Linked DNA regions of Homo sapiens. The protein of the gene in region 2 interacts with the protein of the main gene of each other region in a pairwise test. Each region holds a gene or a part of one and is shown on either strand. Other genes may lie near its edges. The genes, in order: DDX17, WBP11, TESC and UBASH3A.

Region 1 (7,915 bases), on a different chromosome or scaffold from region 2:
ACAAAGAATATTCAGAAAATATCCTAGATAAAACACAGATTTTTGTGATATAAATAATTAAAAAACATTCTCTGTTTGTTACCAGACCGATGCACACTCCCTCCTCCTTTGGGAAACCGCTGCAGCCGATCCCGTCTCTTTGCCTTTTATTTTTGGCGGCCTCCTTTCGAAAACTCCGCCTTCTGACACGGGACCACTGGAGCGCGGGGAGCATGCATCAAGGGTCCGTGGCAGTGAGAAGTCCCCACACACGCTCGCTCTGTGAACTGGCTTAGATGCTTCTCTGTAGCCCCATTTGGTTGCCAAGCGCCGGAGAACCTGGGTTCGGGTAAAAATTTCAGGTCCTCCAACGCCTCCCCCAAGGATAATTGGGGTGATTGTAGAAAAAAATAATTAATAAAAAAAAATGTAAGTTACATCCAAAGGGTCAGACTGCATCTATTGCCCAGACTGGATTAATTTCAAGGGAGAAAGGGGAGATTAAAAAAAAAAAATTAGCTGTTGTTACAGGGCTTGTGAAGAAGGGGCATTATGTCTGTTTCTTATTACAATAAAGGCTCCTCGGTCTTTACTGACCCCTAAAGTCCTGAATCACACCAGAAAGACGAGAAGGCACTTATCACAGGGGGCAGCTTGAGTCTCCGGCTAGGGTCGTTGACGCAACAAAGGAAAAAAGAATTTACAGGGCCAGGGTGGATGTAAGACAGGGGGTGGGGAATTCTACTCCATGGTATCTTCAGAGCTAGGATAATGCTCCTTATGCAATCCCACTGCATATGACCATGGCAGTAGAACAAGTTCAATTACTACACTGGATGCGTTAAGTGTGCTTTCCTAGCAGAAAGCACCAGGGTGGAGTCAACAGTTCACATGCTAATACTTGGAAGTATTTCTAGAAGGGGGTGCTCAATAGAGGGCAGACATGATGCAAGTTCTTCATACTAGAAAGGTGTCCTGTGTGTGCATGCACAGCTGGATGGGGGCACACAGGAGCAAGCGCAGAATTTGGTTTTCTCCAGTCAAGTCTACCCTGATGTTATCTGTGCACTGCCACAATATTATCTTGCTGCCTTTCTAGAAGATGCTGTAGCAGGGTAAGAAATCCAAAGTTAATGTTTTGGCCAGCTGACTGGGATAAGAACCTTTTGTCTGAAAGGCCCTATGACATGGCCTGAATCGCCAATCACTAATAAGGAGGGACTAAGTCTAGCCAAGAGGCTCATCTAGAGCTGCTTCCGGCCAATGTAGATTTGTCTCGGCCATGTATTGAGTGATCTGCAGCTGATATCAAAGCTTCTGTTAAAAAACAAAACAAAATAAATTCAATACTTTTAGTTTAACAGTGTGTAGTTCAAACAAAAAAAAGGAAAAATAAAAAATATCCCAGTGGAAAGGGAAGTGGTAGCCTAAGGATGACTATTATAAAATTATGGGAATCAAAGAACTTACCTGAAGGGAACATTTAAGAGACCATCGCTTGACAGGAAGTGAAAAAAGGCCCTGGTGACTCAGCTGAAAATTGCACCCCTGTCTATGAGGTAGAAGCCTTCACTTTCCAGGATCTTGTAGGACATTGGTCAGAATTCTGCCATTTTGGTGGGTTTTCTCCCTCTTTTGATTTTTTACAAGGCAGCAAACAAAGGGGCCCAAAACAAGCACTGATGTTGAGTAACAAGAAACAGACTCGGGTACCTTCCCTCTCCCCTCACTTGGATGAGTGGGGGTGGGATGAAGAGTCTAAGTTATTCTAATGGTAGCCAATTAATTTGGTTTAGAAATGCAAGGGGACATGGAGCAAATATTTTTAATTGTCTAGGCAAGATGCACAAAGAAGCTACCAGCACATAGCAAGCCTGTTTAAAAACCAACCATTACTGAAAGCTTTATGTAAACTGCTTTCAGGCCTCCGCCTCCTCTCCCAACAGGCCCAAGTTCTAATGGCACAGATCCAGACATGACCTCAGAGGGCAGAGGGGCAGAGAGAACTTTCCATCATGGCTGCAGGTCACCACCTCTGAAGGAGGGAATGATGAGTGCAATGCATAAAAAGGCTTCATTACTTTTGTATTCCAGTTTGAATACCTGTTCTCTTTATATTATATAGTATAAGGGAATAATATGGTACTTCTCACCTTACTGGGCAAATTAAATACCTGTCAATAATTTAAGGATTTCCTTGTAATACAAATAATCTTTTTTTTTAAAATATAGAAGTTCTGAGTTAGACCTGTTTAGCTCAGAATAGTGGGCTAAACTACCATAAAATTCTCTGTATATCTTAAATGGTAATGGGTCAAAAACTCCAGAAAATCATCAGTTGATAACACACCTACAGATAAGTGCATGGGTAGGAGGGGATAGCCAAGTGCCCATGATAATTTGACCTCAGTAAATTAAACTGGGCAATACACATATTTGCTATTCTGATACTGCATTAGACTTATAAAATTCCATCTAATAAGCATTCATAAAACTGGACCTCTCTGTATATATCTAGCTTAGACAGGGATAGGGAAAAGAATAACTGAAGAAACTAGCTTACAATAGCTAGGTTTCGTCAGGCTTATTCTATCCAGCCAGAAACCACCACCAGAGAGAAGCTGAGCCATTCAGCTGTCTGTCTCCTCTCCCTCTGTTTGAATAGTCATGCCTAGGCCTTGCTGCAGACCAAAGCCTGTTTGTTAGGAGCAGGAAGAGACTTTGAAAATAAAAGGGGGGTGGGGGAAACCAAAGTTAAAAAAAATTGTGGGGGGGGCAGGGAATGGGGAGAATCACGCTTTGTATTTTTTTCTTTCAAATATTTATCTAACCACATGTATATACAACTTTCTAAACTTGAAGTCTGAATTTGAAATGACGAATCTTTAAACCAAAAGATACATATACCATTGACAGAGACACCTATCTATACAAACCTAGCCCACGGGAGGCTACATCTGTAGCAATAAGGATGGGTGCCTTTCCAGAACGGAACTCTGTAAAAACAAACAATAATCATCATCAAATAAGCATTCCTTGCTATCTGATCTGTTTACATAACCATGTTAAAATTTCAAATAATGGTGCCAGAAAATCCCAAGCTCTTGTAATGACTGACAGTGATTCTTTTGAAAATCTTTATTACACTCATATTCAGCAGCACAATAGTTACCTCTACTAATAATGAAATACCGTTAAGAGAGTGTGGCAATTTGTTACATAATTAATATGAGCTAGATTTTTTTCCCCTTAAAGTTATTTCCCAAATGAGACACAACCAAAAGTTGGGGGTCAGTAGGAAACAAGTTCAAAAGATGTAGAATGAAAAGAACTGAATTTCCCCCCAAAAGGTATGCATATTATTTATTTTTCTTTCTTTTTTTTGAGATGGAGTTTCGCTCTTATTGCCGAGGCTGGAGTGCAGTGGCGCAATCTCAGCTCACCGCAACCTCCACCTCCCGGGTTCAAGCGATTCTCCTGCCTCAGTCTCCCAAATAGCTGGGATTACAGGCATATGCCACCATGCCCGGCTAATTTTGTATTTTTAGTAGAGACGGGGTTTCTCCATGTTGGTCAGGCTGGTCTCGAACTCCCAACCTCAGGTGATCCGCCCACCTCAGCCTCCCAAAGTGCTGGGATTACAGGCGTGAGCCACTGTGTCCGGCCACATTTTATTTCTTAAACAAAATATGGCCTCTTCCATTTCTCAATGGCTTCCCTTAAGAGTAGTCCTGAAAAAAAGGACTGAAAGGAAATATGCTAAAATATGACTCATTAAGAAACATTTTTCTTTAAATATTTCAGTAACAGTTTAATTCTCCCCAAACGGTAGTTATATTTTTATAATCAGAAGGAAAAAATTGAAGACTTTATTAATAAAGGGAGGGTGGTGAAAGTTGTGAAAAAGTTTAAAGAGCCAGCATCGTGGCCCTTAAAGAACCATGAGCACACGCTAAAAGTACCCTCAGTAATTCAATCAACTATACAACAGGGGTAAGACAAACTGGCCTTTGGGCCAAATCTGGCACAACGCCTATTTTTGCAAATAAATATTGTCTGAACATAGCCACGTTTATCTCTTTGAGACAGGGTCCCACCCTGTCACCCAGGCTGGAGTGGCACGATCTTGGCTCACTCCAACCTGTCTCCTAGACTCAAGCAATCCTCCCACCTCAATCTCCGGAGTCGCTGGGGTTACAGGCGTGCACCACCAAGCTTGGCTAAGTTTTGTTTTGTTTTGTTTTTCTTTTAGAGACAGGATTTCACTATGTTGCCCAGACCGGTCTTGAACTCCTGGGCCTAGGTGATCCACGCGCCTCAGCCTCCCAAAGTGTTAGGATTATAGGCATGAGCCACCAACGGTGCCCAGTCCAGGCCACTTCTTTACATATTATCTACAGCCTACAGCTTTTGTCCTAAAACAGCAGTGCTGAGTGGCTATAACAGAGACCACCATTTGGTTTACAAAGCCAAGCATACTTACTATGTGGCCCTTTACAGAAAGTTTGCCTATCCCTGAAATAGAGCATGAACATTCACTTATGGGCAGGGGGTGGGGAATCAACAGAAAATGCTTAGTTTTAAACTTACCATTAAGTACCCAATCTCTTTCTGGTTGACTCTTGTCTCCATGGATACACATAGCTGGCCAACTATCAGAAGAAAAGTGACCAATATTTTAAAAATCTTTTAAAGTGGAGAAAATCGAACTTTAAAGCCAAATGCTATCATGCAATTTTTGTAAGGTTTGTCAGGCTTCATGAATAGATGACTGTGCTCATTAAAAGAGCAAACTGCATGGATAGGCATTATTGAAATATTACACAACATTTGGAATACCAATTTAGAAATTTCCAGTTAACTATAAAACCAGAGGTTAATTGCCTTGGTGCTATACTCACCCATCTCTGCGCATCCTTCGAGTCAGATCATCACAGCGTCTCTTTGTCTCCACAAATATTATTGTTTTGTTTTCCTTTTCAGCCATTATTTCTTCCATTAGTTGGATCAACCTGAAAACATGACCAACAATGCAGTCATCACACAGAAAGTTATTATGTGGACGATTATGTCTGCAATATCAACTCCCAAGGCTACAGTACTTTCTTTGCACATTACGCTTTTAAAATTTTTAATAACTATTAGAGTACTGAGTCAGGTTCTGCTATGTGCTCAAGAAATACTAACTCATACCATCCTCACAGCAAGTCTCATGTAAGTGGTATTACTCCCATTTCACAGATGAAGAAACTGCAGCACCAAGACACAAAATTGTGCAAAATTATACAGCTTGTAATCAGCAGAGCTAAATTTCAAACTCAAGAATTCAGAATCCTTGCATTTAACCATAATGCTCTGACAAATGATATGATGATGGATTATCAGAAACCTAGCAATGCTTTTAATGTTCTCAGGCCTCAAAATATACTGGTTTCTACAGTACTAATTTTGGAGGGTTATTAGAAAAGGTTTATCAGCATTATCAAATCAGAGTAAAATATCTTTCATACTTGTGGTCTTTTTCACTTTCCATGCAGACATCCACTATCTGGAGGATGTTGTGGTTGGCACTCAACTCCAGATTGCCTACGTTGATCTGGGTGTAATCACGAAGGAAATCCTCTGCAAGCTGTCTTACTTCTTTTGGCCAGGTTGCACTCCACATCAGTGTCTGCCTATCAGGCTATCAAAAAAGGAAAGGCTTTCTTTCAGGCTAAGGAACTTGGACAAATGGCATAAAGACTGCTTATTATTAGCTTTACACACCCTGATTTGGTCAACAATTTTACGGATCTGGGGTTCAAACCCCATATCAAGCATTCTGTCAGCTTCGTCCAATACAAGGTAAGTACATCGGCGAAGATTTGTCTTTCCTGACTCCAGGAAATCTATCAGACGTCCAGGAGTGGCTATGCAGATCTCAACACCTGTAAAACAAAACCAATGATCGAGCCAATCGACTAGGTGCAGTGGCTCACAGCTGTGTTCTAGCACTTTGGGAAGAGGAGGCGGGAAGATCGCTTGAGGCCAGTTCACAACCAGCCTGGTCAACATAGCAAGACCCCGACTCTACAAAAATGCAGCAGCAGCAGCCCTGGTGGCTGTACTCAATGCTGCAGAGAAGCTATTTTTTTTTTTTTTTTTGAGATGGAGTCTTGCTCTGTCACCCAGACTGGAATGCAGTGGCACGATCTCGGCTCACTGCAAGCTCCGACTCCCAGGTTCACGCCATTCTCCTGCCTCAGCCTCCCCAGTAGCTGGGACTGCAGGCACCTGCCACCACGCCTGGCTAATTTTTCGTATTTTTAGTAGAGACGGGGTTTCACCATGTTAGCCAGGATGGTCCCAATCTCTGGACCTCGTGATCCGCCCACCTCGGCCTCCCAAAGTGCTGGGATTACAGGCATGAGCCACCGCACTGGCCCAGAGAAGCTAAATTTTAACAAAGTAACCGCAAAACCATGTCAGGACTTATGTACAATCACCAAATCCTCACAAAGTTTCCAGCCATGCTGAACCTTCTCTCTCAAAATAGCTGTTTTAGTCACATCTGAGAATTTCTAAGCTGCTGAAATTCTGAGTTTATCACAAGAACCCACTTTTTTTCTCCAATTTCCTCCACAGGAATTGGTAAAGTAAGATAAACTAACAATTCTTTTACACTATATATTATTACCTCTTTCCAAGTCTCGAATCTGGGGACCTTTAGGAGCACCTCCATAAATACAAGTACTCTTCAATCTAGAACATTTGCCATAGTCATCGGCCACCTGCTGTACTTGCTGGGCAAGCTCTCTGGTAGGAGCCAGAACTAGACACTGAAACCAACAAAAAGACACTTGAGACCTCATCCAAGGTTTAAAAAAAAAAAAAAAAAAAAGAAGAAACAAAATACAAAAAGCTAATTTAATTCTTTGCTGTCTAATCTAGCACATTAAAAGTGATGGGGTGAAGATCAGAAGTGGGGAATATTAGCACAATGGAATATAGAAAAAAATTATTAGAACTTCATGTTTAGCATTTGGAATGATACTGGTATCCTCGTCACTTTTACTATGACACATTATCAATCATTATAGTTTATATATACTGTTTAAGTGGAGATATAGATTGTATTACCTGGTTTTAAGTATACAACTCTCATTTACAGGTTGAGCATCCTAAACCCCCAAAACCAAAATGCTCCAGCAAGCATTTACTTTGAGGATCATATTGGTCCTCAAAATTTGGATTTGTTTTGTTTTCTGAGACAAAGTCTCACTCTATCGCCCAGGCTGGAGTGCAGTGGTGCAATGAAGGCTCACTGTAACCTCTGCTTCCTGGGTTCAAATGATTCTCCTGCGCCTCAGCCTCCTGAGTAGCTGGGACTAGAGGCAGGCACCACCATGCCCAGCTAATTATTGTATTTTTGTAGAGATGGGGGTTTCCCCATGTTGGCCAGGCTAGTCTCGAACTCCTGACTTCATGTGATCTGCCCACTTTGGCCTCCCAAAGTGCTGGGATTACAGGTGTGAGCCACCATGCCTGGCCTAAAATTTGGAATTTTGGATGGTCATCCTGACTTAAACTGGCAGAATGACACATTCCTGACCTCTAATTTAAGCACATCACCAGGTAGATAAGGCAAAAACAATGAAAATTTACATGTAATCTGACAAGACTGTGTACAATCTGGCCAAATAATACAAAAATCAAGGTATCATATACCATTCAAATTAAATTATGAAACTTGCTTTATATACTGATCCATTAGATATCAACTAATAATAATGCTGTCAGACATATACTATGTATTATAAGTACTGCATTATTTCTTTTTGTGAATATCTTGAGACATATTGTACATGTTCATAAATATATAGGACAAATGCAAGCTTATTTCTTAAAAAAGTTAAGTAGGCCGGGCGTGGTGGCTCACACCTGTAATCCCATTATT
Region 2 (7,915 bases):
GTGCCATTGCACTCCAACCTGGGCGACAAGAGTGAGATTGTCTCAAAAAAAAAAAAAGGAAAAAAAGAAAAAAAATCTGTAGGCAGAATAAAAGGAAAAGAAGGCAAGAGACCACACAGACCCAGAAAAAAATGGAGCTGCCATGGCTCTAATGGCTTTCTACTTTCCAGTCCTAGTTCCTACCTAATAGTCCTCTATAATTATCTTTCATTACCAGCTCTATCATTTTTAACCAGCTTTTTTGTTCTTGCAACCATGATTCTTAAGACACAGCAGGAGAAAAATTTGTCATTATCAATATTAATATTACATAGTATTATATATTCTGTTGTAGGCCACATAAACAATCCCAAAAGAAGCTCCAAAATTGCTGAGGTTTGACAGAATTGGTGTGCATTTTCCACTGTCAGTACCCATTATGATGCTTAAAATTTTCTTGACAAATGTCCTATTTGAATTTTTTAATAATCAAACACACACATTATAGATATAATATGTTTCATGATTCCACTCATGAGTGTACCTGGGTTATAATTATGATCCTGGTTCATGTAAGATACCATAAAAGGGCTTCAAAGGTAGATATTTAAACAGATTTATAAAATACAACATCAATGTTTTTCTTAATATGGCTACTCTCCTTTCTTTCCTGTAACATACCCATAATACGTTTATGCTGTTGAATAGTTATACCTTTTACCCCAAAGTGAACTTTATTACATAGACATTTTTATTACATACAGTTTAATGCTTTTCCTCATAAACATCCACTGAGTACTTACTGTGTCAAAAACTTTCAAAATTTTAATATATAAGATGAACACAGCTATGATCCCGACTTCCAAAGATTTCAGAGTACTCTCACAGATTCATTAATAAATTAGGACCTTCAGCTTGTTTTCTCTTTATTGATCAATACCATGAATCCTTCATCTGCACATACCTGACTTCTTTTCTTCATTGTTGTCTCTCTCACCATTATCACGGTGCACAAATTCATCCCCGTCACTTTCTCCATCTGATTTGTCGGTGTCACTGTCATCAGTACTGTCATCATGCTTATCTTGATCCATGTCCTCAGGATAGCCATCATCTTCACTGGTGCTAGAAACATCATCATCATGACCTCGCTGGGCTGAAAAGTGGGAAGGGAACATGGAGAAGTAGTATGATTGGACCCTCCACTACATGGTACCCAGAAATACAGAAAATTATGCTATTCAACTCAGACTGTAACAACTTAATTCTTACCAAAAAAAAAAAAAAAAAATTCTTGTATATATAGCTACTCATACAGTCTAACAAAATTTTCCTCTGCCAATAATTTTAAACACTTCTTTTTGGTAATTTAAGATTTTTTTAAAAAGAGTTCTAATTTGAAAACCCATTTCCTCCTTTAGCAACAATCATGTTTGTATACACATACACAGTCAGTGAATGTATACAATGACGCTCTAGTCTGATGACAATAAAGCTAAAAGGGAACCAGATATACAAGTCTTAAAGGATTAGCAGCAAGAGTGACATCTCCAGGAAAAGCCTAATTTAAAACACGATAAACATTTCTATACTTATGTATGATGCTTTTACTTGAGAAGATCCTATGATTTATCCAACTGTATGTATATTAGTTATGTACATGATACCCTCTCATTTACTTTCTAAGTTCTGAGGGTGGTGAACAATATGTTAAACAGGGCCAACATAAAAAATGATAGTTATAAAAGCAAAAGAACAGTCACTTCTCACCAAGTTCAGGACTATATAACATGTCTTCATCTCGCCTACGAGGGGGAAGATCTAGGGCAAAACCCACTTTACGGCCATACATCTGCACGACTTGAGGAGGAGGTGGACCAGGGGGAGGGCCAGGAGGTTTTCTGCCAGGGGGCAAACGTGGAACACCATGTCCAAGAAGAGGAAGGATAGAAACTGCCCGAGTTGGAGGTCTGTTAAAAAAAAAAACAAAAACAAAAAAACCCCCACAGTAATCACTTAACAGTAATGAGATATTTATTTTCTCTTCTAAACAATTTTCAAGGGATTTCTTATTTTACATTTAATCAAATGTCACACTGTTTACATCCATATTGTCTTTTATTTCCCTCTGCATTAATTTTGGCACTGGACAGTCAACTTGTGCCTTTACTAAATGCTCTCTGATTGTGACACTGCTTCCTTACCCATAGGCTGAGGTTTTCTTTAGGATAGAGGGTGGCTGGGCACCAGGAAGTGGAATGTCCTGGATCAAAATGTTGGAAGGAGCATGTGGCATATCTGGCAAAGGAATACTCTCCACTTCCACATGCTGAGCATTCTGAAACAGAGAACCATTCAGTAGTATGATAAAAAAGTCATCTACTAACTAAACACTAAAAATGACAAGTCAGCTGTTTCGTAACTTGGACATGCTTTCCAACTAACATAAATATCACCAAAAACCCCCAGAAAAATAACCTTACGTCAATACTTCCACATTGTCAAAGAACTGAAAGAAATCTTTACTTCTAAAAACGTCAGAACCCAGCTGTTTTTTTTCTCCTCTTATCAGGTAATTCTTTTTGGATGATTCGAAACAGCTGTTGTCTAGAGAAAGCCAACTGTTACAAGTATCTAGCACCAGAACTACCCTATTTAACATGTGATAGAAAAATACATGTCAGGCTGGGCGTGGTAGCTCACACCTGTAATCCGAGCATTTTGGGAGGCTGACGCAGGTCGATCACAAGCTCAGGAGTTTGAGACCAGCCTGGCCAATATGGTGAAACTCCATCTCTAATAAAACTACAAAAATTAGCCAGTTGTGGTGGCGTGTGCCTGTAGTCCCAGCTACTCAGGAGGCTGAGGGAGGAGAATTGCTTGAACCTGGGAGGCAGAGGTTGCAGTGAGCCAAGATGGTGCCACTGCACTCCAGCTTGGGCAACAGAGTGAGACTCGGTCTCAAAAACAAAAAATAAACAAAAAAAAGAAAAATAATATATGTCAACTAACAAATAGTATATATCCAGTGGTGGAGGTTGGGCTCATTAGCTTGCCTATGTTGAATTTCTGTTGTGTATTAGCTTAGTTTGACTAAGCAAGGTAACCTGTGCCTTCATCTGTAAAATGGGAGACATATTACCTCCTTTACAGAAATTATAGCATTTGATTTTTTCCCATCTTTATTTTGAGGTAAAATTTACGAAATTTACAAATTCAGTAAGTTTTGACAAATGCATATACCTCATACTCCTTCCCAATCCATCTCTAATATCATCCCCCAAGGCAACCACGGCTACATTTTTTTTTCCTGCACAGATTATCTGTGACTATTCTAGAATTTCATAAAAATGAAATCATAACAATGAGATAAACTTAGCATGTTTTTGAGATTTACTCACAATTTTTCTTTTTTTATTCCATGCTGTTTTGAGTATTAGATTATTCCTTTTATTGCTGAATAGTATTCTATTGTATAAATATGCTACAGTTTAATTATCCATTATCCTATTAGTGAACACTTAGGCTGATCCAAGTTTTTGAATTAATTTCTTCTGTTTAAATAAAGAGGATTAGATTTGCAGGTTCACACAGTAGGTATATGTTTAGTTTTAGAAGAAACTGCTATAAGGAAGAGGTTCAACATGACATTCTCCCATTAACTTTTTAAATCTAAGTATAGGCTGAGCATCCCTAATCTGAATATCTAAAATGCTCCAAAATCCTAAACTTTTTGACTCCCATATGATGCCATGGTGGAAAAATCCACACCTGACCTAATGTGATGGGTCGTAGTTTTGTTTCATGCACAAAATTTATAAAATTATCTTCAGGCTATGTGTATATGAAACATAAATTTCATGCTTAGACTAGGGTTCCATCCCCAAAATATATGCAAATATACACAAAAACAAAACAAAATATAAAAAAAACCCAACAACCCTAAATCCAAAACACTTCTGGTCCCAAGCACTTTGCATAAGGGATACTCAATCTGTATAATATTTTAGTTTATCTCTCAAAAAAAAAACCTTGATTACCTTGACAGCATCAAAATATTGGCTAAGTTGAGCCCTCTTCTGTTCATATTCTACTTCTAGCTTTCTCAATTCTTTGTAAATATCTGGATTCTCTTTTTCATAGAGTCGTAGAATACGTTCAAAGGTTTCACGCAGCTTTTTACGCTTGTCTTTCAGTACTTTCTCATTTAATTGTGGCTGTTGCACTGGGTTAAACTCTAAGAGAAAAAGTAGATTATGGAATTAAATATAAGAGGCCACTTCAATTAGGTATCAATAGGTTACATGATAAAAACCTCCATATATGCTAAAAAATTTTTAAGAGATCTAGACACCAGACATACTCTTTTCAATTTTATTCGAAGAACTACAATATTTATTAAAATCCCCACCCTTTTTAGATGGCCACTAATTTTACCTTTCTCAGAAATGCCACCTAATTGACTTTCATCTTCATTGTAATAAAAATCAATTTTCACTGCTCTGTGCTGAAAACCTCGTGAAGATTCTGTCAGATTTGTGTTTACCTACTACGTTAGTCCTGTCAAATTTTGAGATCTTAAGCATTTTACTTGAATTCTCTGATTTTTTGCTTCCTCATCTAAAAAATGGAGACGTTAATCACTTTGTAATAAAGCTATGATGATACAATGGGATTACAAATAAAATATCCAGTGGTGTTTGACTCACCACTTAACTATAATCTTTATAACAGATCCGTATTCCTGGCCTAGCTACTATACAATCCTTTCTCTCCCTAACTAATCATGTGTCAATATGGGGCTTAACTGCAGGTCCTCTATCCCAAGAATAAGACCTCCAGGCCTGCCTGGTCAATCATATCCCCCCATCTTCCTTTTCAGTGAATGACTCAGAGATCAATTAGCACATGATCCAAACTGGGACCAGAACATTCCCTGAGATTTTAAATGTAGATGTGAGAGAGATAAGCTCTCAGATTTTCTTTCTGAATGTGTTATGTAGAGAGAAAACAAACCTAGAGCTGCCTGTGGCCTTGTCTCTCAATCATCACTAATTACACACATATATTCCACCTTCTATCCCAAGGAGTTCATTAGTAGTAAGCTGAATGAGGCTAACAGACATCAGACTAGACAGATGGACAGTACTGATGATGAGACTGGATTTTGAGGCTAGTTTCTCTCAGGGATTTCTCATCTTTTTTTTATGTTAAGACTTCTTAATTAAGACAGCCAATGCATGCTTTTTTCTGCCTTAACTAGTCTGTATTGAGTTTTATAAATTGTAACTAGACCCCTGATGAATAGTATTCTCTTCACCCCTTTCCTTTTTCTTAAAAGAATAACAAATTTATCTTCTTCCTTAAATCCTATTAACTATTATTAATCTTGGCAATTTATTCAAATCCAGAGGGCGTATTCTTACACCATACTAATCCTAGTGTGATTAGTAAAAGCGCTGAATGCCTGAGTTTTAATCTCAGCTTTGCCACTACATAGCAGTGTGACCTTGAGGAAAGCTATGTAATCTCTCCATGCCTGAGTTTTCTTACCTGTATAATAGGGACAGTGCACCTACCCTAAAAAATTGTGACGATTAGAAAACTGGTGGAAAAAAACTGGTGCGTAGGTGTATAGCAAGACAACTACTCAAGAAACCTCAGTTATTCCTATTATCTCCTTTTAAAACAACACATAACATTTGGGGTCATTTAAAGAAGGATTCCCTGATTCCCCAAGGAAAGTAATTATCCCTGCTGATATTTAGACCAGAGGCAGGAAGTGGAATCAGTTACAACTGAACTGGGAAATATCTGGGATCCTGAAGCCTGACCCAGAACTCTTAGCCAGGCTAGCTGCACAGATTCTCCCACATTATTTCAGAAACCTTGTAATAGCCTAATGCCATGACTGAATTTTTTTTTTGTACCCCATTTAATGTATCATTGAGGAGTTTCATTCCATCTCTTTTACTTACTACTCTGTTTTTGGGCAAAACATGGAACTTGTAACGATCACTTTAAAATGCTATTTTACAAAAGTGGCAAAGGGTAGAAGACAAAGTGGCAGAAACTTGACAGGTGAAAAGCACATGGAAGTTAACTAGACTATTTTATTTTCTTGCATGTTTGAAAATTTCTATTAAAAAAACAAAATATTCTACATGTTCTAATATTAAACAGAATGGATATTTGTGGGTTAGGATAAAATTTCCAGTGGCAACATCAATGATTTTCAAACTTAGATGCAAAAAAAGATAACATGCAGCTATTTCATGTGATTCCAGTTATAACAAAGCAGCGATACTTAAAATGCATATGAAGAGTGAATAAAACTATTCTATAAAATGTGAAAAAGGCAGAGAATCCTGGTATAGTATTTTATTATTTGGTTTTTAGGTATTTGATGATTTTTTTCTATATCCTTACTAAATGGATAAGTATCTTTTTGGATCTTCTGATTGGAAAAATTGGAAATTGCCTTATATTCACAGGGGCCTAATACTTAGATTTACATGGTAGTTGCCAACATTAAATAAAAGACGACAAACAAAAAACCCAAGGTTATTTCATAAATCAGATTAAGTCTTCTCCCAAAAAGCAAGCTGGCCAAACTGTGCTTCTGTTATCTCACAATAACAATTAACTGAAAGCCAAATAATCGCTTCCCTCTTATTCTGGTATCTGGGGTCTCCAGTTTGCAACAGCCCTCTAGCACTCCATTTTGTCTCCCTGAAACTAACATTAAATCCAAGCATCAAATGCCATCATGCTGTTCTGTTTTACTTACGCCTATGCTGCTTCACTCGTTACCTGCCTGCCTCTGTACGTGTCAGACTGTTATAGCTGCCTGTTTGTAAATTCTTACCCATTTCATCCAATTTCTCCATGTCTCGGATTATCTGTTTTGGATCCTTCATCTTTAAAACTGCAGCTCGAACCATCATGCGCTGTTTTTTGTTCTTAGAAAAATAAAAGGGCAGATGTCAAGAAGTCAGGCACTCAGGAGTTTTACTTCAACTTGCTTTAAGAATCTAAACAGAATAACTCCTTGGCTTCTGATCACTTGTTTCAACCACCAGAAACAGCTATGTAATTTTTTGCCTTAAAAATGTTTACACTTGTCAAAAAGATAAAGAAATGCTATTTTTAAGATGTGCTTTCTTAGTAAAGTATTTCTTTGAACTCTGAGATCTTTAGCAGTTACTTAAACACACATACACTTTAAATTTCTTTTTTTTAACCCCTTATGTTCTTGAAGACCTTGGGTGATTGTTCCTGCCCCCTGTTGTAAAACCTCTGCTAGTTGAAGTCCAAAGCAAAGGTTGAAGCTAAATTCTAAAATTATATAAAGAATATTTAAAAATTTTGCAGGAGTTAATGCTAAACATGAAAACACAATCGAACATTATTTAAAATCTGTGTTGCTTCAATGTATTATACTATAATACTATAAAGCACAATACTATAAGGCAAATCCTTTCTAATTCTTTTGAAGTACTTTGCCACAAATTCAACAGCTAAGAGGAGAATGCTAATTGGGAAAATGGATATATAAATCTAATATATCTATAAATATTATAAACCTACATATATATATTTAAGCTAATGTAATATATGTAATAGACAGCTAATCAGGAAAATGGATAAAGCTATCTAGCATCATGTTTATTTCCATCCTCATCAGTAGACTTTAAAACAGTTATGTTTTAATGAGTAAAAAAAAGAATTATTTTCAAAAGTATTTTTTAACTCACTGGGAAAAGTAATCAAACAATGGCATTATAACCTGTAGTGAGCTTCTCTGCAAAGTTACTTCAGTTCCTAAATAAAGTTTGGCTTAGTATATCTTACAGTTTTTATAAAAAGCATAAAGTACCTTTTCTAGAAAATATTAGAAATGTTATTCTGAAACCCACTAATCCCAAATCACAAG
Region 3 (8,226 bases), about 100 Mb from region 2:
CTGAGGTGGGAGGATCGCTGGAGCCCAGGAGTTCGAGGTTGCAGTGAGCTTGATCATGCCCCTTGCACTCCAGCCTGGGTGAGAGAGCAAGACCCTGCCTCAAAAACTAAAAATTAAAAAAAACTGTAAAAAAAGAAAGTAGGCTTGGGGATCCCATGATCTCCAACTCCTCCACTTAGCAGCTGTGGGACTGCAGGCAAGCTGGTTTACCTCTCTAAGCCTCAGTTTCCTCACCTGTAAAATGGCCCTAACACTGCCTTCCTGGGGGATCATTACTATAAAGAGTGTTATGCAGAGAGCACCAGCGTGGAGCCTGATGCTCAGCAGGTGCTTGGGGAATTATGTTCATTATCACCAGCCTCAGCCTGACCTTCTGGTCCTTTCTGGATGGTGTTCTCAGAAAGGGACCAAGCTGATTCCTCCCCAGAAAGTCAGGGGTCATCTTGGTCCTCAGGGAGGCGGGGGAGTCAGCAGCCCTGTGGGCTCAGTCTGTCCTCTGGCCACCTTACCCTGAGGCTTTTCTCCCTTTTTCTCAGGGAAGATTCCCAAGGGAATGGCCTTGGAGGAAGGGCCCTGCCTGACCCACTGGGTCTCTGGGAGCTGACGTTCCCATGCCAAGCCGATCGTCTCGCACGTAACCTTATCAAATCCACACAATGACTTCAGGATCCAGGTGGGGGTACTGAGGCTCAGAGAAGTAAGATGACTTGCCCAAGGTCATGTAGCTCAGAGAGGTGGGACCAAGACTCAACTCTCAGCTATGGCTCGGAGCGACCAGGACATACAAGAGTGTTTAAAGCATGGTCAATAACAAACCATGTACATGTGTTTGGTCTAACTACTTCATGTATATTAACTCAATCCTTCCCAACAACTTCAAGGGAGGTACTATGACTATGCCCATTTTATAGTAGATAAAACTGAGGCTCAGAGAGCATAAGTGACTTGCCCAAGGTACCTGGCAAGGCCCCTGAAGCCAGGCTCCTGCCACAGCCTGAGCCCTGACGACAGCTGTGTCCTCATCTCATGCATTCTTATTTACTGTTGCTGGCTTGTCCCTGCCACAGGGCCTCTGCATTCGACGTCCCCTCGGCCCGAGATGCCCTTTCCACTGATTTGCACACCCCTGGCTCATTCTTACTTGGATTTCTGTTCCATTATCACCTCCTCAGGGAGGACCTCCGGATCCACCCTAAAGCTCCATTCTCATGCCACCCTGCTATGCCTCGTTCACAGTTTAACACCTGTCGGGCGTTTTGTTTACTGTGTGTCCCCCTCCAGGAACAGCAGCCTCTCCGAGTCATCTCTAAATCCCCAGCCCCTGGTCTATAAATATTTGCTAAGTGGGCAAAAGTGACCGAATTACGCAGTCCCTTTCGGAGGACTGGGGGCAACTTTCCACCTACCTAAAGTTCCACCTGCCTACTCTAGTCTAACCTCAGAACCTCCTCTCCGACCCTCTCCATCTCCCTTGGGTTATGAAGTCTGAGCTCTGGGCAGCAAGAAGGGAAGCCGCTGCAGCTACATCTAGGAAGGTTACAGAGCAGGAACACAGCATCTGTCATCCCAGTGGGAGGCTGGACCCAGGAAACTGACAAGACTCCCAGCATGCTCTGCAGCCCCTCCTCCCTGTCAAACCCACAACCAGGTGGAATTCCCGAGTGCCCCGTGGGCTGCCGGAGAGCCCACCCTTCCAACGGGGATCCCAGCCACAGAGAATGCCCATCGACACCCATCCAGATTCAAAGCAGTGGGAGGCGAGGAGAGGGCACATGAGAAATAATAAAAGCAGAGGAGACCCAAGCAAGTAAGAGCTAGAGGAATCCCTCCTTTCTCTCTCATATTAGTCTTCGGATTGAAGTGCATAAAACTTTTTGAGTAAGTAAAATATCCAACATAGTTCAAAATGAACATATAAAAACGTTTACGGAGAAAAAGCTCACTCTCCCTTCATCCCTTCCACTCCCCCCGCAACCCCCACCAAGCATCCATTCGTACTTTCTGGTGGATTCTTCCAGTCTGCAAATATAGCAATTACAAATGTATACTCTTATTTTCCCCTCTTTTTACATTTTCTATTTCTTTTTACTTTGCGGCTCCAGCTCAAAGGATCCTTTTTTAAAAAACAGAAAAAAGGGTACCATATTATATATGCTGAGCCACACCTTTTACTTCTTTAGTTGGATATTTCTATATCTCTACACACACAGAGATACAGATATAGACGTATAAGTGCGTGCATACACACACCAGTTATTAATGGTTTTCTGCAATTTTCATCCAGTTCTCCTGGAAAGGGGTATTTAGATTGGGGGTCAAGAGGGGTTGCTTTTCAGCTGACACACAAACAGCTGGGCCACCCTCTCTTGGTGATCAATACTGGACGCTGGTTCTCTGCACTTGAAGCAGGTGCCAGGAGCTAGCTCTTTCCCAAAATATCTGCAGCTCCCATTTCCTGAGCGTCTACCAGGTACTAGGAGAACTCTTACAACAGAGAAGGAAAGCTGAGAATCAGAGAGGTAAAGTGACTAGCCCAAGGTCACACAGCCAGGAAGTGCAGCTGGCAGGGTTCACAGCCGGTCTGTCGCTCGCCAAAGCCGGTTTGCCCACACACCTGGCCCCCGCGGTCTCCAGTCCACACCCTGGTCCACAGCCAGAGGCAGAACTGGCCATGCCGAGTTCAGGACCCAGGGCCAAGTCCCCAGCCCGGCTGAACTCGGGCAGAGAAGCGCTTTCTCCGCCATTTCCCTGCGGGCAGCTCGGCCAGGCCTCCCAGGGCTCCCCGCCTCCGGGCCGATGCGGGGCGCGCAGCCTTTGCTGGTCCCGGGAGACTCAGCGAACTCAGGGGAGGACGCTGGGCTCCGGGCAAAGTGCTCTGCGGCCGCTGCCTCGCTAAGTCTCCCAGCCACCCGCGGGGATGAGGCTGCCTGAACCCATTTTACAGATGCGAGGACGAAAGCAGGCGCCGGGCGCCGGCTCTCCCGACTAAGGTCACCCGGCCGGGGAGCGTCGGAGACCTGTTCCCACCCAGGTCCGCCGACTTCAAAACTTTCCGCTCTCGCGCTCACGAATGCAAACGACTCTCAGGTGTGGGGCGCGCGCGCCAGCGGGGGTGCCTGAGGGACTTGCCCGCCCGGCCTGAGGCACCTGCCCTGCGCTTGGGAAGCCTGGGCCCCGCTCCCTCCCCGGTCCGCAGTCCCCCGGCCAGGGAGTTCCCGGGCCAGTCCGAAGCTGAGCGGCTGCGGCACTGAGCATCGCCGCGGAGCTCCTCGCCGCAGCCCGCGAGGTGGCCAGCGGGGACCCATTTGAAAGAGGAGGAGACTGAGGCGCAGAGAGGGCCCGCCACTGGCCCAAGGTCACACAGCGCGGCGGCGGGCCGGGGTCCCCAACAGTGGCCGTTCGGAGGTCCCGCCCCGGTCCCCGCGCCGCCCCCCGCGGGTACTCACAGCCGGTCTTGCCCTCGAGCTCCCGCACCTCCTCAGACGCGGAGTGGGCAGCGCCCATGGTGCCCGCGGCGGGGGCCCCGGGGCGCGCGTCCCTCTCAGGCCCCGCACTGGCTTCGGCTGCGCAGCGGCGGGACTGGCCTCGGGTCCGGCCTCGGGTCGGGACGCCGGCGAAGGCTCGGAGCCGCGGGTTCCGCGTGGGGCCGGAGCGGGGCCTCATATAACGGCGGAGGGCGGCGCGCCGCGGTCCTAGCGCACGCCGGTTTCGCGCACTGCGCGGCTAGGGGAGCGCCCCGCCCCGCCCCGGCCCGGAAACCGCCGGGAAGGGGACCCCGGAGCCCACCGCTCTGGAGTCCCCGTTCGTGCAGCAGTGCTCACGTACCTCGTCCCTTCCGCACACCTGCTGGATCTGGAAGGAAGCAGGTGTGAGCAAATTTGGGGGCGTGGGTAGGAGGGGTGGGACCCCTGGGAGGTGCTATGCCCACTCCCAACCCATCCCACCTTACATCCTCCAGATCTTAGGAGGGAAACTCCACTGAGATAGTCAAGGAAGTCAGCGAGCATGAAATAGCTCTATGGAGAACAACAGTAATAATAATCCTATTTGAAAATGCACCATGCGCTTTGGTTTTTTCCAGGAAAGCCCCAGCACCTTCTGAGGTGAACACACCCACGTGGCGGCCCGTGTGGGCCCTGCACAGCCCGGTGGCTGAGAGGCACCTCAAACTGCAGGAGCGGGCTGGGCGCATGGCTCACGCCTGTAATCCCAGCACTTTGGGAGGCCAAGGCGGGCGGATCACTTGAGCTCATGAGTTCGAGACCAGCCTGGCCAACATGGTGAAACCCCGTCTCTACTAAAAACACAAAAATTAGCCAGGCGCGGTGGCACATGCCTGTAATCCCAGCTACTCCGGAGGCTGAGGCAGGAGAATCACTTGCACCTGGGAGGCAGAGGTTGCAGTGAGCTGAGATCTTGCCACTGCACTCCAGCCTGGGCGACAGAGCAAGACTCTGTCTCAAAAAACAAACAAACAAAAAAACAACTGCAGAAGTGGGCCCAGGAGGCTGCATTTGGGACAAACTGCTGGAGAGAAGGCAATGCCGGTGGTCCCCATGCCCATTAGGGAAGTTCTGGGTTAAGATGGCTTGAGGGGTTGGCTCTCCATCCAGTTGGGGTGACTGGGGCCGATGCTGTTGCCTGTGTAATGTGATTCCTCCTCCTTAAAATAAGGATAAGTTAATGAGATGTCCACCAGAGGGCCTGGCGTGGACACAGCACATGGCCACAGAGGCTGGTGGGCGCTATGGAATCTTGTCCCCTGGAGAGGCACACAGCCAGGGCAGAACATCAAGGTCAAGGCTCTCCTGAAGGCTCTGCAGTGCTTAGTGACACCACCATCAATGACCGTCAGGTATCAGGTCTGTTCTGAACGTTAGTCTCGATGATAAATGTTGGGGAGGAAGGGGGACAGGGTAGGGGGCAGGAGTTTTTCGGTGCCCACAGAGGGGACTCGGGTGGACCTACCTCCATCAGTTTCACAGGCTGCTGGGAAGGGGGCTGCTGAGAACTGCTGTTCATTCCTGCAGACTACAGGCTCAAGCCAAGGGTCACAGCCCTTTCCAGGGGCAGGAGGTGACTTTCAGAGCCCGAGGTAGAGGGTGGGAGTTGGTCCTAAAACCTCCTAGAGCATCAGAATCAGCCCCTTCCTGGTTGCAAATCCAGCTTTTGGCCAGGTGCAGTGGCTCATGTCTGTAATCTCACCACTTTGGGAGGCTGAGACAGGAGGATTGAGCCCAGGAGTTTGAGACCAGCCTGGGCAACATAGCAAGACCCCAGCTCTACCAGCAATTAAAACTTTTTAAAAATGAGCTGGGCACAATGGTGTGCGTCTGAAGTCCCAGCTACTTGGGAGGATGAGGCAGAAGGATCGCTTGAGCTCAGGAGTTAGAGGCTGCAGTGAGCTCTGATTGCACCACTGCACTCCAGCCCAGGCAACAGAACGAGACCCTGTCTCTAAAATGGAAAATCCAGCTTCCTCTTCCACTGCCTGTCTGCACTCGTAGAGCTAAGGCAGCACCTGCAATCTGCATTTTAAAGCACTCTCCAGAGGGCAGTGCAAGACCTGATCAAGGTGGAAAGATGTTGGCTGTGGGTCATCAGCTGATCTGAGCCGGCAGGACAGCTGACCTAGGGACTGCATTTTGGTTTAAAGGATTCTGGAAACAGGCAGGCCTCTGGGATCAGGAAAGGATCCCCAATACCCCTGGGAGTTCTGAGCCGCTGAGCCAGCCCATTACGTACAGCTGCTGGGAGCAATTTTATTCCAACTTAAAATGTCAGTTCCTGGAATTTTATTATATTAAACTAGTCAAGGATTAAATGATGGAACTGTCTGATGTGGGGGATAGGAAGTGGCATTCTCTGGACATCAGCCCCTCCTGCTTGGCACAGTTGCTCTGGTGGGGACAAAAGCCCTGGGACAAGGAGAAGGGCACATGGCTTCACATTGTCCCTTGGTGATCTCAAGGAAGCCCCTGGTATCTAGTATGAAGGGAGTCTGTCCTACCCGATCACCTGTCTACCCTGACCCACTGACCGCTGTTAGCTACTAGACAAGCACTTGTACTTGTTCCTTTTGCCTGAAACTCTCTTGCACTCCCGCTTCCTCTTCAGACCTCAGTGGAAACTCACATCCTCAGGGAGGCCTTCTCAGAGTCCTCATCCCCTCTCCTGGGTCCACAGCCAAACAAGCCACCACCACCAGTCAGCAGGGAGCTGGGAGGCGGGAAGTCTTGCTGAGGATGACAGAGGAGGATTTATTCCTAATAGCAGGGCTTGGAGAAGTAATCAGGAGATCCTTGGAGCAGCACGAAGGCAGAAAAAACCAAGGCACAATTTATGCATTCGTTCAATCATTTATTCATTGCACATTTATTGAGCACCTACTATGTTCAGGGCTCTTGCTAGGTCCTGGAGCCACAGCCAGGAATAAGATGCCACCTTCGCTCCTGAAGAACTCCTGGTGGGGTGAGGAGACAGACACACGGGCAGTGACAAAGCAGATGGGTAAACAAGGGCTGACGTGATGGAGCCCACAGAGAGATGGAATGTTCAAACCAGAATGGGCCCCTGGAGAGACTCTGTCATCCCTAAAGCTGAGCTTCAGGAAGTCCAGGACTGTCCCCAACTGTGGTCCCGAAGGGATACAGCAAAGCCAAATTCTTGGTGGACAGATGTCTCTGTGGGGGCCCCTGCAGTGGCACCCACCATCTGCCCGGGCTCTGCCCTCCTCTGGCAATGATGTGCACACCGCAAGGCGCCCTCCACGCAAAGCCAGCTGCTGCCTGTTCCGGGACGTCATGGCTTTCATTCAAACCTACCAATGGCTCTGCAGGCGTCAACAAAGCAAGAAGCAAGAATGAGGTCTGCAGCTTTGCATGGGGTCTGGCCAGGGCTCATTGGATTTTTTGTCTAGAGCCCTGGAAGAGGGGCACCCTGCTGGGGGGCAAGCTTTATCCCCCCCAATAACACAGCATGACTTTTGGAGGACTGGGAAACACTTTAGTCACCAGGCAACTGCGTCTTTTCTCCCAGAGGACCTCCTCCTGGAGGAGCTGATTAAAAGTGGTGACCGCAATTCATATAGCTGGTCCCTGTCAAGCCGCAAAGAGCAGCTGAGCCCAGAGATGGCCAGGATGGTCTTCATTTGGCTCTCCCACCTTCCTGTCATGGAGGGCTATGAAACCATACTTGGGCAAGTTAACCTCTCTCATCCTCAGTTTCCCCATCTGCAAAGTGGCAATTACATTGTGAGGGTTAAATGCAGATTCATATATGTAAGGTGATTCATACATGTGAGGTGATTGTGAAGGTTAAATGCAGATTCATATATGTAAGGTGATTCATACATGTAAGGTGATTGTGAGGGTTAAATGCAGATTCATATATGTAAGGTGATTCATACATGTAAGGTGATTGTGAAGGTTAAATACAGATTCATATATGTAAGGTGATTCATACATGTAAGGTGATTGTGAGGGTTAAATGCAGATTCATATATGTAAGGTGATTCATACATGTAAGGTGATTGTGAGGGTTAAATGCAGATTCATATATGTAAGGTGATTCATACATGTAAGGTGATTGTGAAGGTTAAATGCAGATTCATATATGTCAGGTGATTCATACATGTAAGGTGATTGTGAGGGTTAAATGCAGATTCATATATGTAAGGTGATTCACACATGTAAGGTGATTGTGAAGGTTAAATGCAGATTCATATATGTAAGGTGATCATACATGTAAGGTGACTGTGAAGGTTAAATGCAGATTCATATATGTAACATTGTGAGGGTTAAATGCAGATTCATATATGTCAGGTGATTCATACATGTAAGGTGATTGTGAGGGTTAAATGCAGATTCATATATGTAAGGTGATTCATACATGTAAGGTGATTGTGACGGTTAAATACAGATTCATATATGTAAGGTGATTCATACATGTAAGGTGATTGTGAGGGTTAAATGCAGATTCATATATGTAAGGTGATTCATACATGTAAGGTGATTGTGAGGGTTAAATGCAGATTCATATATGTAAGGTGATTCATACATGTAAGGTGATTGTGAAGGTTAAATGCAGATTCATATATGTCAGGTGATTCATACATGTAAGGTGATTGTGAGGGTTAAATGCAGATTCATATATGTAAGGTGATTCATACATGTAAGGTGATTGTGAAGGTTAAATGCAGATTCATATATGTAAGGTGATCATACA
Region 4 (7,915 bases), on a different chromosome or scaffold from region 2:
GCCTCCCATTTCTGGAGACTAGAGGTTCAAAATCAAGGTGTTGGCAGGGCTGTGCTCTCCCCGAAAGCTCCTGGGAAGGGTCCTTCCTGGCTTCTTCCAGTTTCCGGTGGCCCCAGGCGTCCCTTGGCTTGTGGCTACATCACTCCAGTCTCTGCCTCAGTCGGCACATGGCTTCTCTGTGTCTCTGTGCGGCCTCTACCCTTACGGGAACCCACCCTAATGCAGTGTGACCTCCTCCCAACCAATCGCATCTGCACAGGCCCTATTCCCAAGTGAGGTCACATTCCCAAGTTCCTGGTGGACAAACATTTTTAGGGGACACCGCTCTACACACCACAGGACCTTGGGCAGGCCCTTCACCCTTTGCAGCCTCAGTCTTCCTGTTTTTAAGATGCTGCCAATGAGGTTCACTGGGGGAGGGCCTGGGTGTGAAAGAGCCATCATTTGATAAAGGATACTAATCCACAAAGACCGGGGGCGACTTTCTAATTATTCAGCAGATTCGATCTCCAGACTCACAAGCTGCCATCCAAGTGGAAGCCCAGGATTCAGGGATGGATTTACAGGCCAGGATCTGTGCTTCATACATGTCTGAGCACAGACAGACACGCTCCCAGAGAGAGAAAGTGGGGAGCCCTCCCACCAAGGCACTGCGGCCTCGTCAGATTTTAGAGTCGGCAAATCTCAGCAATACTGAGTGCCTTCTGTGTCCCGGGAACTATGGCAGGATGGGCCACAGACTCAGGCAACATTGTTCTTGAAGAGTGAGAGCCCTCATTGTTTTGTAGAGAAAGAAAAAGAGACAGAGAGAGTGGACATGACTTGATTAAGGTCATGCCACTCATCAGGGACACAGAAAAAAATCACATCTTCTGACGTCAAGTCCACAATCCTTTCCACTAAACCCCAATGGTAGCCTTGGTCTCCAGGCCAGGGCTGGTGTTTGGAGAGAAGGGAATTTTGATGATTCTGAATATGAGTCTAAATAATCTTTCCCTGGAGAGGCCAAGGAGAGAGCACTAAGCTCATACTGAAAATACAGAAATAAGTCACGTAGGACTTGTGTGTCTCCCACTCAAGGCTGGGGTGGGGAGGCCCTGACTCCCTGTGTGCACCAGCCTCCAACCCCGTCACAGTCACCCACTCAGGCTTGATGCTTGGCACACCCTTCTGGGGCACTTTCCCAGGCTGTTGGCATATAGCTAAGCATTTTAAAAACCACATAATGAGAACAAGGCTATTCCCGCCTAAAGAGAAGACCAAAGCTGGTCCGGAAGCTTTCTAATGGCTTACATTTTTGAAGGATGTAGTGGCTCACGAAGGAGGCTCTAGTTAAATTGCTCAGCCTCAGGTTAGGGCCATGTCCAGGCACCTGGCTGAAAATCCAGAAGCGGGAAACGGAAGTGCCTGGGTGAGGACAGGTGCAGCCACTGAGCCCGGAAGAAAGCCCACCCAGCCATCCCACCATTGCTGCTGGGCTCTGCTCCCCTGGAACCCACCCACTGCATCCATGTGCCGGGGGCTAGTCCCTGCCACAGAGGGCTCACTCACTGTGAATCCAGCCCTGTGTTTGCAACTGGCCAGGGCTGCCCACCTGCTAAGAGAGATGCTTCCGTGGCGAAGGTCATGGCGAATTCCCGGATGACGTCTGCGGGGCTGCCACTGACGAAGAAGCCGAGGTAGCTGATGGAGGAGTGGAGAGCCAGAGGCACGGCCGTGGGGAAGGAGCCCAGGAGCCTGTCTCCAGCTCTCTTCAGCGCCTCGTACAGGCATTCCACCTTCTGGTCTTCACACTAAGGGGACAGAGACAGAGCCTGTGTTTCCACACCTCTCATCAGAAGTCATCTATTAATTTAATTAATAACAATCAGGCAGCAATTAAAGTGAGATTCTTTTCTGTTCAAAGCGCTGTAACATAATTTATTGCGTCCCTTTGTGTCTGGGGTTATGGATTTGTTCTATACCTGGACCTCGGTTTTTTCAAATATTTCAGGTAAGTTTCTTTGCAGGTTGGAGTCTCCTTTAGGTGCCCAGGTTGGAAATCCCCTGGTCGTTGAACTGCATCCCCTCCCTCCATGGCACGTGCTCATCACCTGCCAGGCCCTTTCCTCAGTCCCATGGCACACTGCTTTGCTCAGGTTTGCATGATTTGGCTTCTGGAGGTTTCTAGCAGACTCCAAGGCTGCCCAGGCACTGCTCAGAGCCTGTAGTGAGCGGGACTCAGCTGCACTTCCAGCTGCGGGGCCACCCTCTCTTCCACGGCTGAGCACTGAGTCGGGTTCCACAGGGACTCCTCTAAGGCACTGAGGCTCTGCCTGCCTCCAACCCTCTCCTCCTCTTTTGCCTTCACCAGCAGTCTCTCCCCTGTGCGTCTCCTGCACTGGGAATTCTGCCTTGGGGTCTGCTCCCTGGAGGACCTGAGCCTGCACAGCCCCTGGCCCGGCCTCCCTGATGCCCCCTGAGTGGCTGCAGGACCCTCTTTCTGATGCAGCTCCCACCCCTGAGGCCGCAGGCTCTCTGTCACCTGGAGAATCCCTCAGGCCCACGGAGCCCGACAGGTGCTGGCCCGACAGCCTTGCCCACGGGGCTCCCACCCCCATCCTCCAGCCAGACGCAGCCTCTCCTGACATCTGGGCTCGGTGTTGCCTACCGCCCTGGGGAGGCTGCTTCCTGGGCTTGAAAACCTTCCCAGTGCCATTGGCCACATCGGACCACAGGGGAAACCCAGACACCACACCCTCCTGGCGGGAGTTGGCCTGATCCCTTCTCTTCCCAGCACCGGGCTGCCCTCGGAATTTCCCACAGTGCTTCTTACAAGCCCAAGTATGAGGCCAGATCACAGTGTTTAATGCAGCTTCCGTCTCCCCATGGACAGGCCGGCCTGACATTCCTCCCTGTCTGTTTTCTCTGCAACCCTCAACGGCACTCAACACAAAACCACCCAGTGAACACATGTCCATTCCTGAATCCGTCTCACATTGTGTTTCTTGGCCTCAGATATGTAATTTTCAAGAATAGTCATGTTATAAGTGTAGCTGTGATCAATATCACACTTCGGAAGATTAGTGTTTTCATTTTACAGCATCAAGGTACACAGTGAGTCTCCGTTACACTCTTCTGCCTGTGAGGGGAGCTCCACTAACCACGGCCAGGCCAGAACTGGGGTGGGGGACTGGGAGGAGCTAACGACAGAGGGAGGTGTGTGAGTGTGTTTGTGTCTGCATATGTCTATATGTGTGTGTGTCTGTGTGTGTGTCTGCATATGCGTATGTCTATGTGTGTCTGTGTGTCTGCGTATGTCTATATGTGTGTCTGTGTGTATGCATGTGTGTATCTGTGTGCATATGTGTGCATGTGGTGCTTATGTGTGTGTCTGTATGTGTGCATTTGTCTATGTATGTGCATGTATGTGCATGTCTGTGTTTGTGCATGTGTGTCTATCTAATGTGTGTCTCTGTGTGTGTCTGTGTGTGTCTATGTGCATGTATCTGTGTATTCCTGTGTGTGTATATCTGTGTGTATCTGTTTGCATGTGTACCTATGTACATGTAGTGTGTATGTGTGTCTATCTGTGTGTGTCTGTGTATGTCTGTATCCATGTATGCATGTATATATGTGTGTGTCTGTGTGTCTATATCTATGTATGTCTGTATGCAGGTATGTGTGTGTATCTGTGTGTGCTGTGTACGTCTCTGTGTCTATCTGTGTGTGTCTGTGTGTATCTGTGTCTCTGTGTGTGTCTGTATGCATGTATGTGTGTGTATCTGTGTGTGCCGTGTGTACGTCTCCATGTCTGTGTGTGTCTGTGTGTCTATATCTATGTATGTCTGTATGCATGTATGTGTGTGTATCTGTGTGTGCCGTGTGTACGTCTCTGTGTCTATCTGTGTGTGTCTGTGTGTCTATATCTATGTATGTCTGTATGCATGTATGTGTGTGTATCTGTGTGCATGTGTAAGTCTCTGTGTCAATCTGTGTGTGTCTATGTGTGTGAGCTATGTGTGTGTCTCTGTGTCTATCTGTGTGTGTGTGTGTGTGCTTGCACCTCAGTGGGCTGGGGAAGGAGTGGGGGGCCAAGGCCTGCTCTGATTTCTGAGCTGTGTCACATGGCTTGGGCTGCCTTGCCTTTCCCCGTTGGCTCCAGAGGGTGAACCAGAAGGGAGTCAGCTTGTCACAAGTACCATTGATGTCGATGTAGGGGGAAAACTCTCTCGATTTTTCTGGGGCTTTTCCAGGTTTAGTCTTGTGCTCTGGGGATCCCTGCAAGTCTCGGGCAATCCGGGGTGGTGGTTGGAGGCTTTGGAAGGTACTGCTTCTCCTGGGACATCTTCCAGAAATCTTTTCCCTTCAGAGGTTTGCATTCCTCCTTTCCATCCAGCACCGAGGGGCCTGGTGTTGGAATGGAGGGTTCCTTGGGCCCTGATGGAATTCCTTGAAATGGGTGGAACAAATCAGTTTGCCAACAGCAGAGTTGGGGCCAGGCCGCGGTAGCAGAAGTGGGTGTGCCCTTCCTTAAGCCCCTCTGGCGGAGCTGAGTAGAGCAGTGGCTGTCTGTCTCTCCCTTCTCCTTCTTTTCTCCTGAGCAGCTCCCACATTCTTCTTGTCTTCCCGGTGCCCCTGTAGAGCTGCCTGCTGGGCCATTGTGTTTTGCTGTGGAGCTACCCACTGGGCCATTTTTTTTCTGAATCAGACGGCTGGTCCCTGAGACAGGGAAAAGTTCTGCATTTGTGGGTAGCCAACAATCACCCATCCTTGAGTTGACTTACCACACATTTTGGAAGCACAAACTCTGTTTTAGGGGCTGTGCTAGTTTCTGGGGGTGCAAAGATGAGTGAGGTATCTGCCTTCCCTTGAGGGACTCGGTCTGGTGAGGGATGCGGTGCTGCACCAGACACATGGCCCGTATGATACAAAAGTGCCACTAGACACATGAACGAGAAAATGGGCAGCAACTCCTTTTGCCTGGGGAGCTGGAGAAGACTCAAAAAGGGGAGAGGATAAATGAGTTGGGTTCTGAAGGATTAATAGGAGTTGACCAGATGAAGGCAAAGAGGAAAATAAAGGACAGCTCATATGAAGGTGCCAGCTAATGATGCAGTTCTGGACTATCCCATTTAAATAAGTCAACTTTGTCCCATCATGGCCTAGTTAGCACAGAAAAATGCCTCCAGCTGCCGTGAGCATTGAAGGCACACTGGGTTGACTCACCGTGAAGAAGTCACAGAGTGTCACGTGTGGGAAGACCTCATGAGCTCTGTTCTTTGCACACTGGCGCTTGCTCTCTCTCCAGAACTCTTGAAGTTTTTCCAGCAGGGGCCCCGTTGGACAGAGGAAAAGGGCATACTCCTGGGGGATGGGGTCGTCTAGGGAAGGGTCATTGCAATGATCATGCAGCCTGCAACAGAGAGCAAGCCGGCATCACCCACTGTCACAACAAAAAGAGTTTTCCCCTTTGAGGATACACAACAGAATGACAATGACAGCAATGCAGAATTATAGGGCACACTGAAGACATCATATATGCTCATGACATAAATTAATCTCACAGCCATCCTACTGGTGGGAGGCACTGCGGCACAGCTGTGTGTGGCACAGACCTGGTCAGTGTAAGTCCTGCTCTCAGACCCACCTTAGTCTGATTCCAAAGTCAAAGGTAGAAAAAATGAAAGAAAGTTGACAGCAAGACCTAAAACCTGGTCTTCCAATGATCCGTGGGCCCAGCATCTCCTTGATGGTGTGGGAAAATTTTGTGGAAAAACCTCACATTTGTATTTTACCTCAAACTTCAAATTACATATAAAAACCAAAACCAAAAACCTAGACAAAATTTAGGTAGCTGCTGCGTTTCTTTAGATTCAGACAGTTTTTATTTTATTTTATTTTATTTTATTTTATTTTATTTTATTTTATTTTATTTTATTTTATTTTATTTTTGAGATGGAGTCTTTCTCTGTCACCCAGGCTGGAGTGCAGTGGCACAATCTCAGCTCACTGCAACCTCCACCTCTCCGGTTCAAGCAATTTTCCTGCCTCAGCCTCCTGACTGGCTGGGATTTCAGGCAGACAGTTATTTTAAATTAAAGGAAAAACGACGGATGACCCAACATAGGAGTTCATTGTCACTAACAATAAAAATGGAAATAAAATAGCTCCGAGACGGCATTTTTCTCATCTGTCAAGTTCACAAAGATTTTTTCAATAAAAAGGATAAAAGTTCTGCTCAATGTGTAAAAGATGCAGCAGGACTTAAGGACAGACCTTTCAACTTTTATGTGAAGCAATTTGCCAATAGGTATTGAGAGTCTTAAAATGCCCACACTCTTTGCATTAATAATTCTACTTCCAGAAATTTCTCCCGAGGAAAGAGCACAAAGTACTGTATAGGCAAAACTTTGCACATGAACCATCTATTTAGGGCTATTTAGAAGAAAGTTAGAAGGTTATTTAGGGTTATTTAGAAGAAAGAAGAAAAACTCCATAACTGATAGCAAATCTATTTACCGTGCATTCATTAGAAATCATGGTTTGGAAGAATTTCTAATTACTCAGCAAAGTGCCTGTGATATAATTTTCAATTTAGAAAGTAGTATTCAATCACTAGAGGAAACAGAACTTACGCAAGACCATATTCTCTTCAATAAAAATCACAGAAGAAGTTGCCACTCCTCTCCATCGTGGTTCCCACCCTCCCCCTTTCCAGGGTTCACCCAGAGGGTGAAGCTGCTTTGCCTTCTCCCAGAAATTTAAGTAACGGACTTATAGATAGCACTTGTTTTACATAAATCATAAGCTGTTATTCAAATTATTCTACAACTGGCATTTTTCCTCTACCATGTCTTTTCAATTAATCCCTGTTGATACACACGTGTCTAGTGAAGTTTGTCAGCGCGAATTTGTTAAAGGCTGTGTAATAGTTCATGTATACATATACAATGTTGCACTTGTTCATTCCCGCATTGATGAACATCTAAATTATTTTATTTTAAAACCATTTCATAACCCTGCAATCAAGATCTTTGTACATGTCTCTTTAGGCTCCTTGCATTTCTCCAGGGAATCTGCTTAGACGCACGACGGAGGCTGGTGGGCTGTGCATATTGCCAAGGTTGGCAGATACCCAGCACTGCCTTCCTCAGTGACACCAGTGACGTGTGAGGCCCTGCTTCCCTCACCCTCATCAACACTTGGAGTTACCTTGTTTGCTCTAATGATATCTTAATTTGCACCACCTCCCTGGTTACTAGTGAGAGGTTGGGGTGCTCTTGACAGTCTAGGGGACCCCATTGCCTCCCTATTTTTTGGTGGGGTTCCTAGTCTTATTGACTGGGTTGCAGTGGGCAGGTGCTGGCCATGCCCTTCACAGCAGTGGGCTTGTTTCTGATCCAAAATTGGCAACTGGCTTTAGTGGACTCTGTGAAGGGGTTGCCCATTTTGCCCGTGGCCTACACTTTCTGGAGGAGGAGGGGGCATCCCATTGGGAACACTGCACGTTCAGAGACCCAGGATCAGTATCTGCCCTCCTGCTTTGGAGAGGACACTCCAGCCTCCCAGGACCTGGTTTTTATTGTTTGATTTTCCCCGTGGCTATCTCAGGGCAGAGGATGAAGGACTCCCCACAGCACATCCGGGTAGGAGAGGGTTTTAGAGAAACGGTGGCCCTCCTCTCCATCCCCAGAGCAGAGAACAGGCCCATGGCAGTGGGTGGCTTGAAGAATCACTCACGCAGCTGGTACCTGGTGAGGTCACCTCAAATCAGAGCCCTCACCCGACCCACACACCTGGCACCCTTAGACCCACACACCTGGCTTCATGACCACCAGTAAACTCCCTTCCCCTCAGAGGCAGCCCGAGAGCATGGTGGCCGCTAGTCTCTATCAGCAAAGATGTCAATTATGTCTCAAATCTTTCCATCAAT

What was found.
Region 1: the proteins of WBP11 (region 2) and DDX17 interact in a two-hybrid assay, tested with the Homo sapiens proteins (3 studies listed by BioGRID and IntAct).
Region 3: the proteins of WBP11 (region 2) and TESC interact in binary tests that used the Homo sapiens proteins (3 or more experiments, as listed by UniProt).
Region 4: the proteins of WBP11 (region 2) and UBASH3A interact in binary tests that used the Homo sapiens proteins (3 or more experiments, as listed by UniProt).

Annotation. Positions count from the first base shown.
Region 1 is NC_000022.11:38,489,141-38,497,055, forward strand, and holds part of DDX17 (probable ATP-dependent RNA helicase DDX17 isoform 1 precursor), read right to left. Parts: intron 6,798-7,915; coding exon 6,656-6,797; intron 5,907-6,655; coding exon 5,746-5,906; intron 5,663-5,745; coding exon 5,490-5,662; intron 4,992-5,489; coding exon 4,881-4,991; intron 4,632-4,880; coding exon 4,570-4,631; intron 2,976-4,569; coding exon 2,916-2,975; intron 1-2,915. UniProt on the Homo sapiens protein: As an RNA helicase, unwinds RNA and alters RNA structures through ATP binding and hydrolysis.
Region 2 is NC_000012.12:14,792,788-14,800,702, forward strand, and holds part of WBP11 (WW domain-binding protein 11), read right to left. Parts: intron 6,942-7,915; coding exon 6,848-6,941; intron 4,217-6,847; coding exon 4,020-4,216; intron 2,318-4,019; coding exon 2,184-2,317; intron 1,950-2,183; coding exon 1,750-1,949; intron 1,136-1,749; coding exon 944-1,135; intron 1-943. UniProt on the Homo sapiens protein: Activates pre-mRNA splicing. May inhibit PP1 phosphatase activity.
Region 3 is NC_000012.12:117,095,779-117,104,004, forward strand, and holds the start of TESC (calcineurin B homologous protein 3), read right to left. Parts: upstream 3,639-8,226; 5' UTR 3,505-3,638; coding exon 3,447-3,504; intron 1-3,446. UniProt on the Homo sapiens protein: Functions as an integral cofactor in cell pH regulation by controlling plasma membrane-type Na(+)/H(+) exchange activity. Promotes the maturation, transport, cell surface stability and exchange activity of SLC9A1/NHE1 at the plasma membrane.
Region 4 is NC_000021.9:42,406,902-42,414,816, reverse strand, and holds part of UBASH3A (ubiquitin-associated and SH3 domain-containing protein A), read right to left. Parts: intron 5,396-7,915; coding exon 5,209-5,395; intron 1,794-5,208; coding exon 1,595-1,793; intron 1,408-1,594; coding exon 1,294-1,407; intron 1,259-1,293; exon of another isoform or gene 1-1,258. UniProt on the Homo sapiens protein: Interferes with CBL-mediated down-regulation and degradation of receptor-type tyrosine kinases. Promotes accumulation of activated target receptors, such as T-cell receptors, EGFR and PDGFRB, on the cell surface.